Homo sapiens: one gene and its partner. The protein of the gene in region 2 purifies or fractionates together with the protein of the main gene of each other region. This does not show direct contact. Each region holds a gene or a part of one and is shown on either strand. Other genes may lie near its edges.

Region 1 (8,664 bases), on a different chromosome or scaffold from region 2:
AGGTGTATGTATGTGTATGCATATGTATAGACATATATATACACGTCTATGTATAGACATATATGTATGTACATATGTCTATGTATAGATATATATGTATGTCTATACATAGACATATATATGTCTATATACACACACAGATACACCTTATGGATATATATATATCTCAGTCTCATATATACACCTTATAGATTTATATATGTATACACATACATGTATATATGTGTATATACACATACATGTATATACACACATATACATATATACATATATGTGTATATATATACACACATACACACACATGTACACACAGGTACACACACATAGATACACCTTATGGATAGCCACCAAATATATATGCCATGTACCAAATCATGCAATTGATTTCACTAAATGTACTTTTTATCAAATGAATACTGATACTTATAAAATGGAGTGAATATCTTTTGTTAAATTGCCTTTGAAACTGCCAATTAAATTCATTTTGTTTGGCAGTATCATTTTTAAAAAAAAAACATAATAAACATAGTGCCTGAATTGCCTATCTAGTCAGCTATTTACAATAAGGTTCCCCACTCATAGATGAAAATGAGATCATTGTCCCAGTGAAAAAGGAACAACCTCAAAGCATCTTATCCTCACTTAAGCTCAATCTTACCTTCAGCATATTAATTCCCAGAACTATGTTCTTCTCCAAATTCTACGAAATCAGGGCTACTGATTTCTTCAGGAGACATCAAAAATTTGGAGAGCTAAGCTTCTGCCAGTTGGCAAAAGCAGCTTTCAATCAGCTACCTGAATTATTTTAGGAGGCTGGAGGCATCACTATTTCCAAAAGCCATACTGCTAAATCAACAGGAAGATTACAGGCTTTTGGAATCAAGTTCTCAGACTGTGGTCTTCAGTTTTTCTTGAAAGCTGCTTATAAAAGAAGGACTGTGTGAAACTTTGATATTTACATCAAGTCACAACTAAGGGGCAGGTTTGCAAAATCAATTGTGCAGCTTTTATACTCACTGCACATTTACCACATATGTCCTTTATTACACAGTGGAAAACCATTAAATGCACAGTAGTTTTGCCAAGTGGCATTATGCATTTAACAGCTTTATTCGTTTAACAGCTCCAACTCTCATTATATTTTGCCATGTGGTACATGGGATTTTATGCATTTAACAGTTTAAGAAGGCTCTATGGTATTTTCTTTTCATGTATTTCATACTATGGTTGGACATTATGTCTTAGCAAACTGTATTTCACTGATTTCATTGAAGAGAGAAAGTCAGAGTAATCTGGAAAACTTACTACACTGAAATTGAAAAGGGAAACAAACATTTCAATCCCTTTCCAAGTTCCTTGATATTCTACTCCCCTCCTTTTATCAACATCTAAAAATAACCTATATCAGGTTAAAACTGCAGGTAAAGAAGGCTAACCCTGTACTCTATAATTAATCTAAATATAACATTTAACTACAGTTTGAAGTTTTTCAGTTTTAAAAATTTAATTTTTATTGAAAACCTTCTTGCTTAATAGAAATACAATACTCAGTCACTTCCTTTCTTTATAGCACACAACAGAAGATTTGTTAGGGAGATGATCAACCATTTGATTATTTACATATGTAGGGATGAAAACATTTGTCATATAAGGACACAGAGGAAATCAAGCTCAGAATCAAAGGACTCTCAAAATTATGCTTTAACTAACTTTTATTTCCTCCACTCTGCATTAGGTGTTCGCCCTAGGTATACATAAGTGAGCATGCACCTCAAACCTAGGATTCTAGGTTTGGGCAGAAGTTGTCCCTTTAAATGAAGAATTGAAGCAGATAGTAGATCCCATCAACTGTTGCTGCTTTCAGAAATAAAAAACCTAAGCATCTGTCTGCTCTTTTCCCCAGAGCATTACATTCTCCACAATCCCAGAACTCTGAAAAATTTTACTGGATAAGCTTCTGTGTTTTTCTGTTAAAAGATTTTAGCACTTACTCTGCACTCCCCCCACGTGTGTTTTCTCCTGAAAAAATCAACTGTATTCTGTACATAAAAGAAACACCTGACATCAAAAGGTGTCTCTGGGGCTGGGGAAAAGTGGTTATTATAACAGAGTTGGACATTCCCCTTGTGGGAACAGGAAAGGTGATGAGACTTGGCTAAAACTTGGTCTCAGAAAGGTGCTGTTATATACATTCTAAGTTTTGTTCATACACACACACACACACACACACACACACACACATATATAAAGGGAGAGAAACAAAAGGGTACATTGCAGTGTTTAGAATAAGGAGAGAAATCATTCGAGGCTAATTTTTTTTAATCTTTAAAAGAAAAAAGGTCAAGTTTTGGCTTCATCTCTATTTTGAACTCCAATGGGAATAAAAGCAAACTAGAGTAAAAGGCAGAACATGACAGGTTTCTTGGGGGTTATTACTGTTATTATTATTATAGGAACAGATGTATTTTTATTGGTGGAGGAAGGAGAAGGATCTAATTCCAGCCCTCGATTTTGCTTTTTTAAAAACCACTCACCTGACTTTTATTTGCAGCCACTTTGGCAAACAGGGCTTGAGACACCTTGGCCCTTTTCATCTCCTGTTGGATCTCGTCATAAATGGCAGCTGTGATGTTGATGTTGGCGCCGTCCACCTTAATAGGGAGGTCTGTTGTCGGTGTCGAGGTTTTGGCCTACCAAGAGACCATGAAAATAATAATTTAAAAAGTGCTGCATTCAGCCCAGCCATCTGTGCAGAAATTATCAAAGGATTTCAGTCAGCTGATGCCAAACTGCATTAGCTACAGAGGGACACTTCCTGTCCATTATTCTAATCAGGTTAATTGTGATTGGAAATAATTGCAGTGCATTCCTATAGGACATGCAGAATCCTGTCAACCCTGTTCTCTCACAGCATCCCAGACGAAGGTTCACAGGTAGGATGGCTCTCCTAGACACCAAACTATAAGCAACCATCTAACTACAAAACAAACATGCAGAACACACACACAGTTAACCTTTTCTTTCTAAAAATGGCACACCTTGGAATAAGAGCCAATTCTTCCAGAAAAAAAATAAGTAAATGGGTAGAGGTCTCTAAATAATAAATTATTACTCAATTTAATGCACTCCCAAGTCTCTCTTATTCTTTATTAAAGCTTTACATATGTCATTCGAGTATGTATGGTTTCCCATCATTATCATCATTATGCTACCCAGACAGTCACCTAATTTCACCTAGGAAATCAGTGGAAATGAAACAAAATTTCATTTCATAAAACTAGGCTTCACAATGCCTTTGATGTGCCGTTTTCATTTTCTTAAACTCATATTGCGGTTTTATGTATTCTGCAGTGCTCGTTTTAATTGAATGATTTCCCATCAGCTTCAGAGACAAATGAAGGACAATATAGAAGTCTGTACTTCTTGGGGTTAGGATAACCCTAAAATGTCTGAATCTACTTAATCCAAAAGACGGTCATAACATTTACTTGGTGTGAGCCCTAGAATGCATTGCTGGTGTCTAATAAGAGAGGGCTGAGACATTTTCTTAGAACCTCTGGCAGCAAGATTTCAGGAAAAGACATCCTTGATCCTTGTGCACTACCAGCCGAATTGGCCTAACCTGGGTTTTTTCTCTTTGTCCCCATTCACCCTAGAATCTCAAACCAACAGAGTTATCTCCAAATCACAAGTTTCCCTGTGCGGATGCCCTGAGCTGTTCTCTACTGGATCCAGCAGTATGCAGGTCCAGAGAAAGATGTAACAGGCAGTGTGGACTCTGTGACAAATGGTGTCTAGCGGCAGAACTTAAGGCCCTACGTTTCCATAAAGGCTTTGCTTCCTAACAGTGCTCAGTAACTTCTGCCATTTTTCTTCTACCTCCTTCTCTCATACTATTTTCTAATTACCGCAAAGCAATAATTACTATAATTTATGGCGTGCTTTTTATGGGCCAGGTACTCCAGAAAGCATTTTAACATTTGTTTTCACATTTAATTCTTTTAAGATTCCAATGAGTTAGATATTATTATTTTCATCTTACAGATGAAGAAACTGAAATAAAAGAGGATCTTAACCTAGGACACCCAGCAGCCAGTGAAGGAACCATGATCTGAACGCAAGTCTTTCAGGCTCAAAAACATGGGCTCAGGACACTGCACTACACACTGCCTCCAAAATCTCCAATTTATGCCAGGTGCTGTTGTAAGAATTTTCTTGCTATGTTGGGACTTTCCCATTAAAAATTCAATTATCTGTAATTTTTTAAAATAAACTATTTGTTCTGCTCAAAATTTCTAGTTAACCCACAGTGCTTTCCCTGTTAAGAGAACGTTTTAGCATAGCATGTCTGCCCTTTCTCAATTCAGTTTTCTTAATTTGCCTCACTGACTATCTCATCCTACCTGATTGGTCAAGCCTTCTCTCCAACCATGAGGGCTAAGACGAAACCCCTCAGCCATGTGCCCTTACACAAGTTACTGAATCCATCTAAACCTCAGTTCCCTCATCTGTAAAATGGGCATAATACCATAAAATGGTGACAACTGAATTCATGCAAAATGTTCACAACACCTAATACACAGTAAGCGTTTTAACAAATGATCATTCTTATCTTAGTATTGTTTTGTCATTATTAAGTACACCATGGAATGCTGGCCAGCTGAAGAAATAAAAAGAGACTGGAGGTATAATTTCAAATTTCAAATTTCTTCAATTTGTTTTTCAGCTACTAATAAAGTATAGATGGGGTCTGGAAAATAATCTCCCTGCATCAATGTCAAGCTGCTTGTGTGCACTAAATTGCTGACTCCAACTAAAAGGCTGAGTCAGTGAGTACTCCTCTAATACTTGTTCTCACAATAAAATCTGTACTGTACTACGATCTTTACTGTTGAGATATGACTGTAAAGAATTTTAAGTCAGTAATCATGAAATGTTTTAAAAGACTTTAATAAACTCTCCTTTCTCAATCTTTACCCAAGAGAAAAAGACAATTCTAGAGAATGTACAAATGCAATGCCATGACCGTATTCTCAAAAACATGTTTAAATATTTATTTTCAAAAATATCAAAACTGTGATATTAAATAAGAGATTTCCCTGCTACACCTATCCCTAAAGGGCATCTGTATGAATTTTCTAGATGGCATTCTGGTCAAAATAAGCAAAATACTGACCCTAACTGTGGGGCCTTGTAAGTCAGTCTGGCACTGAAAGCTATTAGGTCTTTGAAAAGGTGCCTACGATATATAATCTTGTTAGGAAAATAGTACAAAAGAGCTGAAAACAAATACACAGACCTGTGTTAATTTCTAACAAGCAGAAGTAACTTTCTAAGAAGAGCTGCCTTGTCAAATGGCCATGAAGTATGCCTGGGCTCTTCTATAATGGTTTAATGGGCTTCAAAAGTGGCAAAAATATTGATGAATTTAGCAGAAGTAAATATTAGTGCACATTAACAACTTGCCCAACTTACTAGCTCAGTATGTATGTCCCCAGATTTTTTTTTAAGTAAACAAAAATGCTTGGTTATACTCATCCAAAGTAAGCAGTCAAGAGACTTATTTTTGGTTCAAACAGTAACTAAAACTCATAATTCACTAAAGACTGAAGTGTAAGTAACACAATTTGGCAGTGCATGATAGAAAGTAATCTTCAATTAAAAGTTTATTGCAGAGTACAAAAATATAAAAAGAGTTAAAATGTGTGAAAAAATGGATATACTTGAAAAAGCTCAAATATTTCTACTAGGATACAATTCTGCTTCTATGCTTAATCAGTTCCTTAGAATTTATCAGAAAACGCAAAACCAAAGCTATAATATCTAAGCAAAACAACCTTTGGTTTTGAACCGCCCATTTTTCAGCTTTGTATAAATGTATATCCATTAGGTCGGGCACGGTGGCTCATGCCTGTAATCCCAGCACTTTGCAAGGCCGAGGTGGGCAGATTACTTGAGGTCAGGAGTTCGAGACCAGCATGGACAACATGGTGAAACCCAACCTCTACTAAAAATACAAAAAATTACCCTGGTGTGGTGGCATGTGCCTGTAATCCCAGCTACTCGGGAGGCCGAGGCAGGAGAATCACTTGAACCTGAGAAGCAGAGGCTGCAGTAAGCCATGATCACACCACTGCACTCCAGCCTGGGCAACAAAGTGAGACTCCTTCTCAAAAACAAACAAAAAAAATTTATACCTGTTAAATACTGGTTTTGAGAATTAGCACTCAGACAGAACCTGCAACTATCATAGCAACAGTGAACGGACTGGCCTTATCATAAATCTATCGAGTAGTAAAAGTTTAGGGGAAATAGGGGATAGGCCAGAAATGAGTGGGCTTGGATGTGAACTAGAAATGACCCCTGACTGCCTTGAGACCTTGACCCTTGAGTTAGGAGCTTTGAAGCACACATTACTAGATGTATACATTTGCATGAGGGCCTAAGAAAAGAATACTTTTCAAGTGTGTGGAGAGGAAGAATGGAAGTCACCAAATTCTGTGGGGAGATCATCCTAGGATGGAAAATAATTAAGGCCTACCTTTCCACCATCATTTTCTAAAGGATCATTGAGTGACATCTCAGTCATTCTGATCTGGACACTGCATATGCATGCTTCCACTGCAAGTGTTCCTCCATTTTGTCTTTTTCAGATTACATAAAACAGAGCTTCAACTACCCTCTGCCCCCTGCCCTCAGCCACCTCTACCCCATCCAGCCCAACCAAATAAACATACAATTTGAGGGAAAGCAGTGTGCTTGCTATGCAAACTCAGCTTCAACACAAATGCCCTAACTCCTAACTGAGCAGCTATGTATAAACATCCTAGAGCCCGCCCCTGTGCCCACTCCTACCTTCCTACCCCTCACCTACCACGTATGGAAGAATGGGACTTCCTAAAGGGACAGAAATATAGTATGGGATCATATATGGTCAGAAGTTCATATCCTCTGACCAACATGTTCAGCGGATTAAGAAATCATAGAATTGGCCATGGACGGTGGCTCACGCCTGTAATCCCAGCACTTTGGGAGACCAAGGCAAGCGGATCACCTGAGGTCAGGAGTTCGAGAAGAGCCTGGCCAACATGGTGAAACCCCATCCCTACAAAAAATACAAAAATTAGCAGGGCATGGTGGTTGGTGCCTCTAATGCCAGCTACTTGGGAGGCTGAGACAGGAGAATTCCTTGAACCCAGGAGGCGGAGGCTGCAGTGAGCCGAGATCATGCTACTGCACTCCAGCCTGTGTGACAAAGCAAGACTCCATCTCAAAAAAATTAAAATAAAATAAAATAAAATAAGAAAAGAAAAAAAGGAAAGAAATCCTTGAATTATGTCTCTCAATGTTTGAGGGAAAACACAGTAACTAGTGAAGGCAAGATGTTTCCAAGACAAAGAGTGAAAAATACGGAAAGCAAGTTTCTCACCTGAGGGGTTCGGGAGGAGCTGGGACTGCTGGAGGCCGAGGAGACCATGCTCACATTGGGATTCATGCTCCGCTCCCTCTCATCCTGGTAGATGCGATCTCGCTCCACTTCTGGCAGATTGAGGAAATTCTGCATGGCCCTCAGGTTTACTAGAAGAGACTGAGAGGCTGTCCGAGGGTCTTCTTCCTTACGCAGAATCTCAGACAACAATCCCTGATTAAATGGGGGAAAAAAACAGACCAAGTCACATTTGCAGGTATATGTGTGTGGTTTCTGTCTTCCACCCCTCTCCTCCTTTGTTTGGTTTAACCAGCTCGCTGTGATGTCAAGAACCTCACACTAATTCCTTAGGGTTCTCCGATATGAAGTCAATGTGCTTGCCTTCCGGGGGATATGCATTATTTTAGGACTGTTCTATTCTGACACTTTATCATCACTGTAATAATCATCAGTGTACAGACATGCCAGCTAGCAAGGTAGGCACTTGGGAAGAATTGTGAAACTGCAATTACCACCAGGTGCCTCCTACAAGTATTTCAGGAACTGTTAGAACTCTCTCTGCTTGAAACTGGGAACACTTGGCAGTCCTGCTTAGCTTTACAAATCTGCCAAGTTTGGTAAATTTAGTTTCGACATTTAAACAGCATGGTAGATTTACATCAATTTAAAAAAAAAACTGGCTGAATTTCTGTATGACCGGCCACTGTTTTCAATAGAGATATTTCTTATGCAAAAAAAAAAAAAAAAAGACGCAAAGCAAATGGCTAAATTGTGTTAACCCTCTGATAATTTCCCAATCTATACACACAATAGTTATCCTTACATATGTACAAAGGGCACCCAAATCTTTCATGAGACGTCTTCATGGGGGAAACCCTAATGTCACCATTAAAGCAATGAAAATGAAGTCACCTCTGGCGAGGGGCTGAGCACACTGTAATAACAGTGTGCACGGAATGCCATGATAGGCCCAGATACTTTCTGAATGTGTGACTCACCCAAATAGAAAGATTTAAATAGGAAGTCAGGGTTTTCATGTGCTCTGACGACAGAGAATTCACAAAGAAAAGGAAAATGCTGCCAAGTCTAGAGAAAAGTAGTATGGACTCCAGAAAAGGGCTGGAGATCTAAGGTGGGACATTGTCGTACTGGGGGTAGGTGCAGGTCTATTTCCATTCTGCACACTTGTTGGATTATCACACAGAGACATCACTTTATATTCCCAGCTAATATAT
Region 2 (8,821 bases):
TTAGAGGGGCAAAGGGCTCTTCTTAAAAAACAGAAGCCAAGAAAAATAGTTCCTCTTGTCCAGCGTTTACTTCAAAGTGGAATGAAGAGTGAAAAGAGGAGGATTTGCCAAAAAAGAAAAAAGTACTCAGAATCACCCAGATTGTAAATTTTTAAGCGTCTAGAGATCCAAAGCCTGTTTTTTCTTTTTTCCCCCCTCTATCTTTGGGAGTCTGGAAGGTATTCTACAATCTCAGTCCCAATAAAATACTCATGCAATTTTATTTCTAGTTGATACAATTTTAAAGGCCATGTACAAATGTTATACATTTTTATTTTTGTTCTTTTTTTAGGAAAAAATACACAAAAGGCAAAACATCCTCAAATGGTCCTTTTATACAGTGCAGAAGGAAATTTCAAATTTCAAATACGTGTCACAAATGCTGCACTCTAGCAGCCAAAATACAAAAAAAAAAAAGGAGGGTAGTCCTTCATATTATATATATATTTATATAAAACATATGGAAATTTGTTTTTACACAGATCGGTCTTTGTTTCAAATTTACAATGGATATCTAAAAAAAATTCTACACGGCAAATATTGCCAACAAAGTTACACCATTAATACTGATAAACGGAGGAGCCTACGCGGTGTTTTGATTATTAGGGAAAGAAAGTAGAATAAATAAACAGGAGCCTTGCTATAGTTTTTAAAAGTGCCTTAACCTTTCTGCGTCCCCGCAATCCTGAATCCGCGCGGTCACCGGGCCGTCCTAGTCCCTGCGTCGCGCTGTGTTCGGCTCGTTCTCGGACCAGAAAGTTTACAGTAGAGGTTGGGAGACAGAAAAATACCCACTGAAAAAGTCTAAATAAAATTCAAGACAAAACATAACAGAAGAGGCTGAAGCGAAGGAAGAGGAGGAACATGGAAGGGGACGGAGGCGGACGCCCGGACGGCCGCTTGCTTCGTGGCTCCTTTGACTTTCTGTTTAAAGACGGACAGTGGCTTCCGAAATGCAAGTTGTTCGCACAAAGATCCACCTGTGGTCCACGGAGGAGACTTCGGAGGTGGGGAGGGAGATCGGGAGGGAGATCTGAGCTCTTGTCACTTCCCGCTCCCTGCAAAAGACGGCTCTAAAGGGAGACTTGCGCATTCCAAGACATTCTTTCAAAAAAAAAATAAAAAATAAAAAGATAAATACTCAACCAAAAAATAAAAGTATTTGATAATGATTGGTCTCACATGTTTGCTTTTCTTCTAAAAATTTTCCCCCACTTCTGCCATTGGCCGGAAGGAGGGGGGACCTCAGCAGAATTCCTGTGTGGGTGCGGGGGCTTTCCCCTGCACAGCACCGTCTCAGGCGGGTTCAACAGGATCAAAAACTTTTATTTACCGATGGCTGCAGTCAGATCAGACCCACCACTAACATTTCTTAACAATTTTGAAGGAGTGAGGAAGGAGGTGCCAACCGCAGCGCTGTGTCTTTGCATTGGGGACTCCTTGCCAAAAACTCCGGTTGGGGAGAGGTGGAACCCTTTTCTTCTGCCGACGGTTATACCTCGAGAAGAAAGCAGTTTCTTGTGCCGGTCCAGGGTCCCTGTGACCCGCCTGCCTGCACCAGGAGGGCCTGCGGCGGCAGCCTCACATCACGCAAGGCTTGATGTCTTGGTAGGTGACCTGCTGGTGGTAGTAGGAGCCCCCGCCGGCCGAGTGCATGGAAGAGGACGCCATGGCGTTGAAAGAGAAGACAAACTCCTTTCGGTCACACATGCTGGGCGACTGCGAGTGATACCGCGGGATGCCTGCAAGGCGAGGCGACAGGAGGGGTTGGGGGAGCAGAAGAGTTAGCCACGGTGGCTCAGAGTTCAGGCAGAGGAGCAGTGCTCCCGTGGGGCGCACAGGGCCTGTCAGCCTGGCTCCAGAGCACGGCCGCCTCCCCGCTCTCCTCCCCGAGTCCCGGCCTTCCAGCTGCGCACCCAAGGAAAAGACTCCAGAACACTTGCCACGGCCTGCCTGCCTGCCTGCCTGCCTGCCTGCTGCGTGCCTGTCCAGCCTCGGACACCGTGCAGGGGCCCAGGGCTTCCAGAGCCATAGGGGAAGTGGTGAGGGAGACCAAGTGGAGGGCCCCTAACGCCCATGGCCGTCACCGCCAGGGCAGCCACCACCACCCCCAACCTCAGAGGCTACGACTGCCGGCGGGGTTGAAGGAGAGGCCAGTGCAGGGCCAGCGCCGGGCCAGCAGCAGGGGTGAGAAGAAGCTTCTCCAGAGAACAGGCCCCGGAGCCGGGGAGTCCCCCGCAGAGAGGCTGCCTAAGGCCTCCAGGCCTGGCTCCTGCCTCCTGGGGCTGCTGACAGCTGACCCTGGACTGGCCCTGGCAAGCTCACTCCAGCTTTTTCCAGAGCTGGGCCTGCAGGCTGCGGGGGGCCTGGGGCAGAATCAGGAGGCGAGGCTGCTGCATCTCCCTTGGCAGATGCTTCTGCATGTTCGGGGTATTGGGGTATCAGGGGTGTTGGGGGTGTGGGGACCTGAAAACTTGGATCCTAAAAAACAAGGAGCCCCCATGGCCCGGTCTGCAGCTCTGACCCTCCGGGGCCTGGCCACGGCACCCTCCTGCCTCAGTCACCACAAAATGCCCCTGGACTCAGCTGTGGGTCTGCCAGGTCTGGTCCCCTGAAAGGCCGGGGCTGAGCCTCTGAGCGCTGGCCCAGCGGCTTTGGGCCTAACACCTTCCGTTCCGCCCAGCCCCAGGCAGAGGCAGCCCTCCAGGCAGCCTGAGGGCCACCACCAGGGAGGGACAGCCATCTGGCCAGCGCTGGGAGCCTTGGGTCCATCCCAGGATCTTTCCAAGCTGTGAGGGGACTTAAGGGACACAAAAGGACTTAGGGCACTGGGGTCTGGGACATCTGGCTCAGGACCAGCCTACCTGGTCAGGCCTGGAGCAGCTGGCAGCTGGAGTTCGAACAGAAAGAGAAACAGATTGGCCCAAACTAGGGTCAAGAGCGGTAGTCACTCTTCGAAGGGGGAGAGGTGGGGCCAAGAGACACCTTGGGGAGCTGGTGCCTCCCCTCAGCCTTGGGGTTCCGACCACAGAAGTGGAGGGGCTCGCCCCAGCTGGGTCCCGCTGCCACTCAGACTCGACTTCCCGGGGACCAGGGCGCCCTCGGCCTCCCCACTCACCTTGCAGCTCGGCTGGGGCGTTGTGGCTGTTCTGGTGCAGATACGGCTGCTCCAGGGAGTGCGTGGAGAGGCTGCCGGACAGGGGGTTGGCCGCGGGGTTACAGGGGGACAGGGGCTGCTGCTTGATATAAGAGGCGCCGCTGTTGAGCGCCGCGGACGCCGAGGGCGGCCAGGCCGCCGCCGAGCCCGAGTAGACGGCGTGCGGCTCCATGACCCCACCGGCGCCGGTGGGCAGCAGCGGGGAGGCGGGCACCGAGCTGTCGTGGTGCGGGTACTCGCCGGCCGCCGCGCCGCCGCAGCCGCCCATGTACGAGTGGCCGCCGTTGGAAGGCAGGTGGGGCACCGAGTGGCTGGGCAGGGCCATGCCGTCCACGTTGCCCGGCAAGTGGCCGTTCATCATGCCCAGGCCGCCCTCCAGCGCCAGGCTGTTGGGCGGGCACGAGAGGCCGCCGGCCGAGCCCTGGAAGCCGTAGGTGTCCGGGAGGTGGTTGAAGCCGAGCCCGTTCATCATGCTGTACATGGGCTTGAGCGCCTGGCATTTCCTTCGGAAGCCGCGCGGCCGCCGCCGAAAGGAGCCCTCCTCGAACATGAACTCGCTGGCCGGGTCGATGGTCCAGTAGTGGCCCTTGCCGGGCCGCCCAAGGCCCTTGGGTAGCTTGATGAAGCACTCGTTGAGCGAGAGGTTGTGGCGCACGGAGTTCTTCCAGCCCTGGTAGGAGCCCCGGAAGAAGGGGAAGCGGCTCTGCAGGAACTGGTAGATCTCGCTCAGCGTCAGGCGCTTGGTGGGTGAACTCTGGATGGCCATGACGATGAGCGCGATGTAGGAATAGGGCGGCTTCTCCGGGCGCCGGATGCCGGCGTTGGTCTTCTTGGCCTTGGACGGGCCGGACGACGCGGGGTCCATGGCCGCGCCGCCTCCCCCGCCGCCGCCGCCGCCGCCGCCGTGCGGTGGCTGCTGCTTCTCGGGCGCCGAAGACATCGGGTGGCTGCTGCCGCCGCCGCCGCTGCCGCCGCTGCTCTGCGCCGCGGACGGGCCGGGAGGAGGAGGAGGAGGAGGAGGAAGAGGACGACGGGGGGGAGGAGGGCGAAGGGGAGGGGGCTGCGCGCGCGGGGCTGGCTGCACCTCTGCCGTCATCGGCGGCCACTTCTCCCGAGCGAGCCGCGGCGCGCCCGCCCCCGCGCTCCCGCCCGCCCTCCCCGAGGAGCTGCTGGATCCGCCGGCGGTTGGCTCAGAGCCCCTCTCTCTCCAACTCCCGCCTCCCCCACCTCTCTCCTCCCTCTTTCTTTCTCGCCCTCCCACAAGGAAAGGAGCCGAGCTGAGGCCGAGGGCAGCCCGGGCGAAGGCCGTGAGGAAGCTACCCCCGCCGGTATTTTTTGGGGGGAGGCACCACCTCCAGGTCTTACGGCCGTGCGCCCCAGCCGGGAGCAGCCCTGAGTCCCCGCCGCCCGCGGCGCTCGGCTCCGAGATTCCGGGCGAGGCAGCCTTCACTCCATCTCCGCTCGGCTGCGTCTCGCGGGTCGGCCTAAGACCCTCCCGGAGTTCCCTCCCTCCGTCCCTGCCCCCCTCGGGCCCCCGCGTTGGTGGGCGCTTAAAGAGCCCCCACTCTCGCCGCCCCGCGGCCGCCAGCAGAATCCGCCCCGCCTCCACCAACCTGGCGAGCAAGTGTTAATGCGCCCTCCGCCCGCGGTTCAGCCCCGGTGCGCGCTGGACCCCGCCTTCCCCGCCCGGGCGGCGCGGCGGGAAACGCTCCCTGGGCCGGGGCCTTCCCCGACGCGCACAGCCCTGTAGCAAATCGCAAGTGCGGCGGCCTCCCGGTCGTGACCATCGCAGGCACAGCCGGCTCGACTCCGGTCCTCGCGGCCGGCCGGCTAAGTTCCCGCGAGGGACCGCCTACCCACTCTCCCCGCCCCGGGAAGAACTGCGCCGCTCCCGGGATTTTTCGGACTCGCCCAGCAGCTTGCGAGCGGGCGGGCAGCCGCCGGGGCAGAGCGCAGGCGGAAAACGAAAGCGCAGCACGAGTCGCGGCCGCTTTGTCTCGGGCGCCGCGGGCCTGACGGGGGCGAGTGAGAACCCGCTGGCCCAGAGGCGACCCAGACCGCACAGGCCCCTGAATAAGCGGCGTGCTCAGTCACTCACCCGTGCGCGCACACCCTCGCGCTCTTGTCCACACATTAGCACACACATACATGTCTTGATGCACATGCAAACCCGGTAAATTACGCAAACAGACGTGTAAACACACCCATGCGTGTGTGCACACTCATATGCAGAGGGCGCTCAGGCATGTGCGCACCCACTAATGCACTCGTTGACACGGAAGCTTAAGGCCCACAGGAGCTTAAGTTCGCACTCACTCCCACTCACGCGTACACACGCCACGCTCGGATCTGAACTCACACGTAGTTCAGTTGCCCTCCCCCACCCCCAACACACACTGAAAACCCGCCTATTTGGCCCCGCGGCCCCGTTTTCAAAGCGCAGGTTCCGATTTCCCGAGAGATGGCAAAGGCCCTGGCAGGAAGTTTACAGGGTTTAACGTAAACAAGTTCTGGGGGATTCTTTAATAATAATAATAGAGAATTCCGCGTGCGCAGGGCGGGAGGGGGGAGTTGGCCTAATGCCCCTGTGGGCTCGGCCTGCCGCCGCCGCGGGGCCTCTGACACTGCGCGCCAGGCCAGGTTCCTGAGAGCAGACAGCGCGGGCTGGGAGCGCCGGCAAGGGCGGCCCTCGCGCACCTGGCTGCCAGCCCGCAGGGGGCTCGCACGCAGACCTGCCCTTGCCACCTCAGCGCTCGGGTGCGGGCTGGGGGCGGTGGAGCCACGAAAGGTGGTGCCGAGAGCGGAGCGCAGGACAGCGCAGGAGCCCCGGCGCATCGCGGCGCGCACAGACCCAGGTGAGTGCTGCTCTCGCAGCGACTGCTGGCCGGGCGCGGCCTCTCCCTCCAGGGTTCCGAGTTGAGAAGAGGGGGGCGAGGGGTGTTTTCGCGGGTCATCGCGAAGAGCCTAGAGGCCAAGCCCCAGCGCGAGCTGGGGCGAGAGGCGTGTGCCGGGCTCGCAGCACGGCCCGCGGCGCGGCGCGTTCAAAGCCTACCCGCCTCTCGGTTTTCTCCGGACTCCTTGTCTCCCGCTAACTACCCGCCCCCACCTTCCTGGCTCGGACGCCTTCATTTTCGGCGGGAGACGCCTGTCGCCTTCGGGGCGCCTGGCACGTCGGTGAGAGGAGCTGGGGGGCTCGCCGGCGCAGCCTGCCGGGCAGTCGCCGCCTCCTCCGCCAGATCTGCGCTCGCGGGAGAAGAGAGCCGCCTTCCCGCGCTGCCCTTCCGCTGGCCTCTCTGGGTCTCCGCGTGCAGACAGCCTGGCCCGCCTAGGGAAAGAATGAGTGTGGGACGTGACCCGTAGTGTGTGGTTGTGCATTCACGCAGGTAAACGCTCTCTGGCAGACCCGCTACCACTTCACACAACCAGCTCAGCCTCCGCGCACACAGACACGCTCCGCACCGCCCACGGCCTCAAACACCCTTCCCAGCGACCCTCACACAGCTCAGGCGCTCCCAACCCTTGGACCAACACACAGGCCTGCCCAACGGGGAGGGCACACTTTGGTTTAAGTGCACACTTCATGCACGCCCACATGTTCTCCACTGCGCGTTCGCCCACGCATAGCCAGGCGCCACGCGCAAATAATCATAGGTACCGCCGCTCCATACGTGCGCACGCGTCCACGAACACAAGCATTCTCACATTCTCTCCCAACTTTTGTGTGTGTGTGTGTGGCAAATGGCAGTTGCAGATGAGGAGACCCTGGCCTCCGGAGGAAAGTTCTGTTCCCAGGAAGGGGTCGCTACTGCCGACTGCCAGAGCACATCTGGCCCTTAGCAGAGGTGAGCAGAGAAGGCTGCACAGCTCTTAAGCCAGCTAGGGGTGCAGGGCGCACGCTGCGGCTCGCTGAAAGTGGAAATAGCATCTCCCTTCCCCTCGCCCCTCCCCCACTCATGGGGCGCCTTCAAAGTGAGCGGGTCCCTAGAGCATGAAGTTGGGGAGCCCTTTCCCAGCAGACTCCTTCACTCCTGGGCCCTCTTCAGTTGGGGAAGGGAAGCCGCAGGTCCCATCGTTGGCTAACCCGGAGATCCATTTTTCCCTCCTTTCCACCCTTCTTTCTGCCCTTTCACCGGCTCTGATAGCAAACCAGACCTTACAGAACAGCCAGTCACGGAGCCCAGCGAAAGAGCCGGCCCAGTAGGCCTGGGAGTCTCAGGAAGGCCAAAGATGGAGGCTCTCCCCAACTGCTCATCTCTACTGCTGGGTGTGTGTAGAAGTGGGGGCGTGAGAGAGGAGGCGAATGAGCTCCCAGCTCTGTAATTTGGAGGGGACCCCCTGAATTCTGGGGAAAACCACAGCCGTAGCAAGAAGGGCTTTCCTTCATGCTCAGAGACTTCATTCTCAGCTCTTACAATGTCCCTGAGAGGTCTCCCTTGATCCTACATTTTTAGGGTGGAGAAACTGAGGCTCAGCATGGACTTGAATCTCTTATCAGCCAGCACTGAGAGGTGAACACTCTCCATCTCCCCTCTCTACGTCCAAGGACAAAATTTCCTGGCGTTTCACTCTCCCATGTGCCTCTGTGTAGGCGGGGAGTGGAGAGAATGGGGCTTAGAAATGCCTCTGCCATCATTACACAGCCCTGGCTTCCCAGGGCCAAGGGGACAGAGAGCCCCCGTTGGGGAACTGATGGTGATAAAATAGCAATGACAACTACGAATACTAGATAATAACAGGCTCATCCACTGCTGCCCAGGCACCAGGCGCTGCTCCTCACTCGATGAACTGCCCTTGTCTGCTCCTAACCTTCCTCTTGGCTGTCAATCCTTTGAAAATTAGTCCGACCTGCCCCCGCCCCCAGAAGGTGCATATTTGTGACATTCGTAGAATGATTTTGAAGGTTTCGCCAAATGTCTGGAGCCCATCTGTGAACCTGTGAGGCACCAACCATGAACTCAGGACACTGGTTAAGTGTCCCTAAGAGACTTGTGTAATATTCACCGATGCCCCTACCAAGTCAGTATAATTTCCCTCCTCATTCACAGTTGGAGCTCTGCGAGGTCACTCCAGGTCCTGGGTCACCCTGCAAAGCCAGTATCCAAACCTGGCCTGATTGCAGAACCAGGGCGTTAAGTGTCCTGACCACGGGGTGAGGCTCAGCGGTGCTCAGGGCAGAGGGGCCCCGCTGCCGCGAACCCCAAAGGCAGGGGGATTTGAACTCGCCCCACCATGTAAGGATGATGCATAAGCTCTTTGCACCTTAGTTTCTTTATCTGAAAAATGGAACTCATCATGGTTCCTATTTCTTGGGGTCGTACAGAGGGTTGGACAAGACCATGCAGGGAAGGCTTAGGTTGTACAAACAGAAACAAAAACCCCAGGGGCTCAGCTCCAGGGATGGAGGAGAAAATGCAGACAGGGACAGAGATCGCGGGCAGCCTTTTGCTCTTGGATTAAAATCCATGAAGACCGGCCCCCTCCCACCCCAAAACAAATCTGCGCCCCATCTCTGGCCCCAGGAATCCTGAAACTGGCCGAGCAGGGCGGGGGTGGGTGTGTAAAAACGGACACGACTGCAACGTCTCCCACTCCCCAGGCCCAAGGTATTTTTACTAGCTAATTGCT

Evidence for each region. Proteins that work in one complex are often made in the same cells at the same time.
Region 1: the proteins of FOXF1 (region 2) and SATB2 purify together in Homo sapiens (affinity purification with mass spectrometry; 2 studies listed by BioGRID and IntAct, with this or other methods). This does not show direct contact.

The regions. Positions count from the first base shown.
Region 1 is NC_000002.12:199,321,269-199,329,932, forward strand, and holds part of SATB2 (DNA-binding protein SATB2), read right to left. Parts: intron 7,643-8,664; coding exon 7,430-7,642; intron 2,691-7,429; coding exon 2,535-2,690; intron 1-2,534. UniProt on the Homo sapiens protein: Binds to DNA, at nuclear matrix- or scaffold-associated regions. Thought to recognize the sugar-phosphate structure of double-stranded DNA.
Region 2 is NC_000016.10:86,505,885-86,514,705, reverse strand, and holds the start of FOXF1 (forkhead box protein F1), read right to left. Parts: upstream 4,180-8,821; 5' UTR 4,137-4,179; coding exon 3,158-4,136; intron 1,782-3,157; coding exon 1,621-1,781; 3' UTR 1-1,620. UniProt on the Homo sapiens protein: Probable transcription activator for a number of lung-specific genes.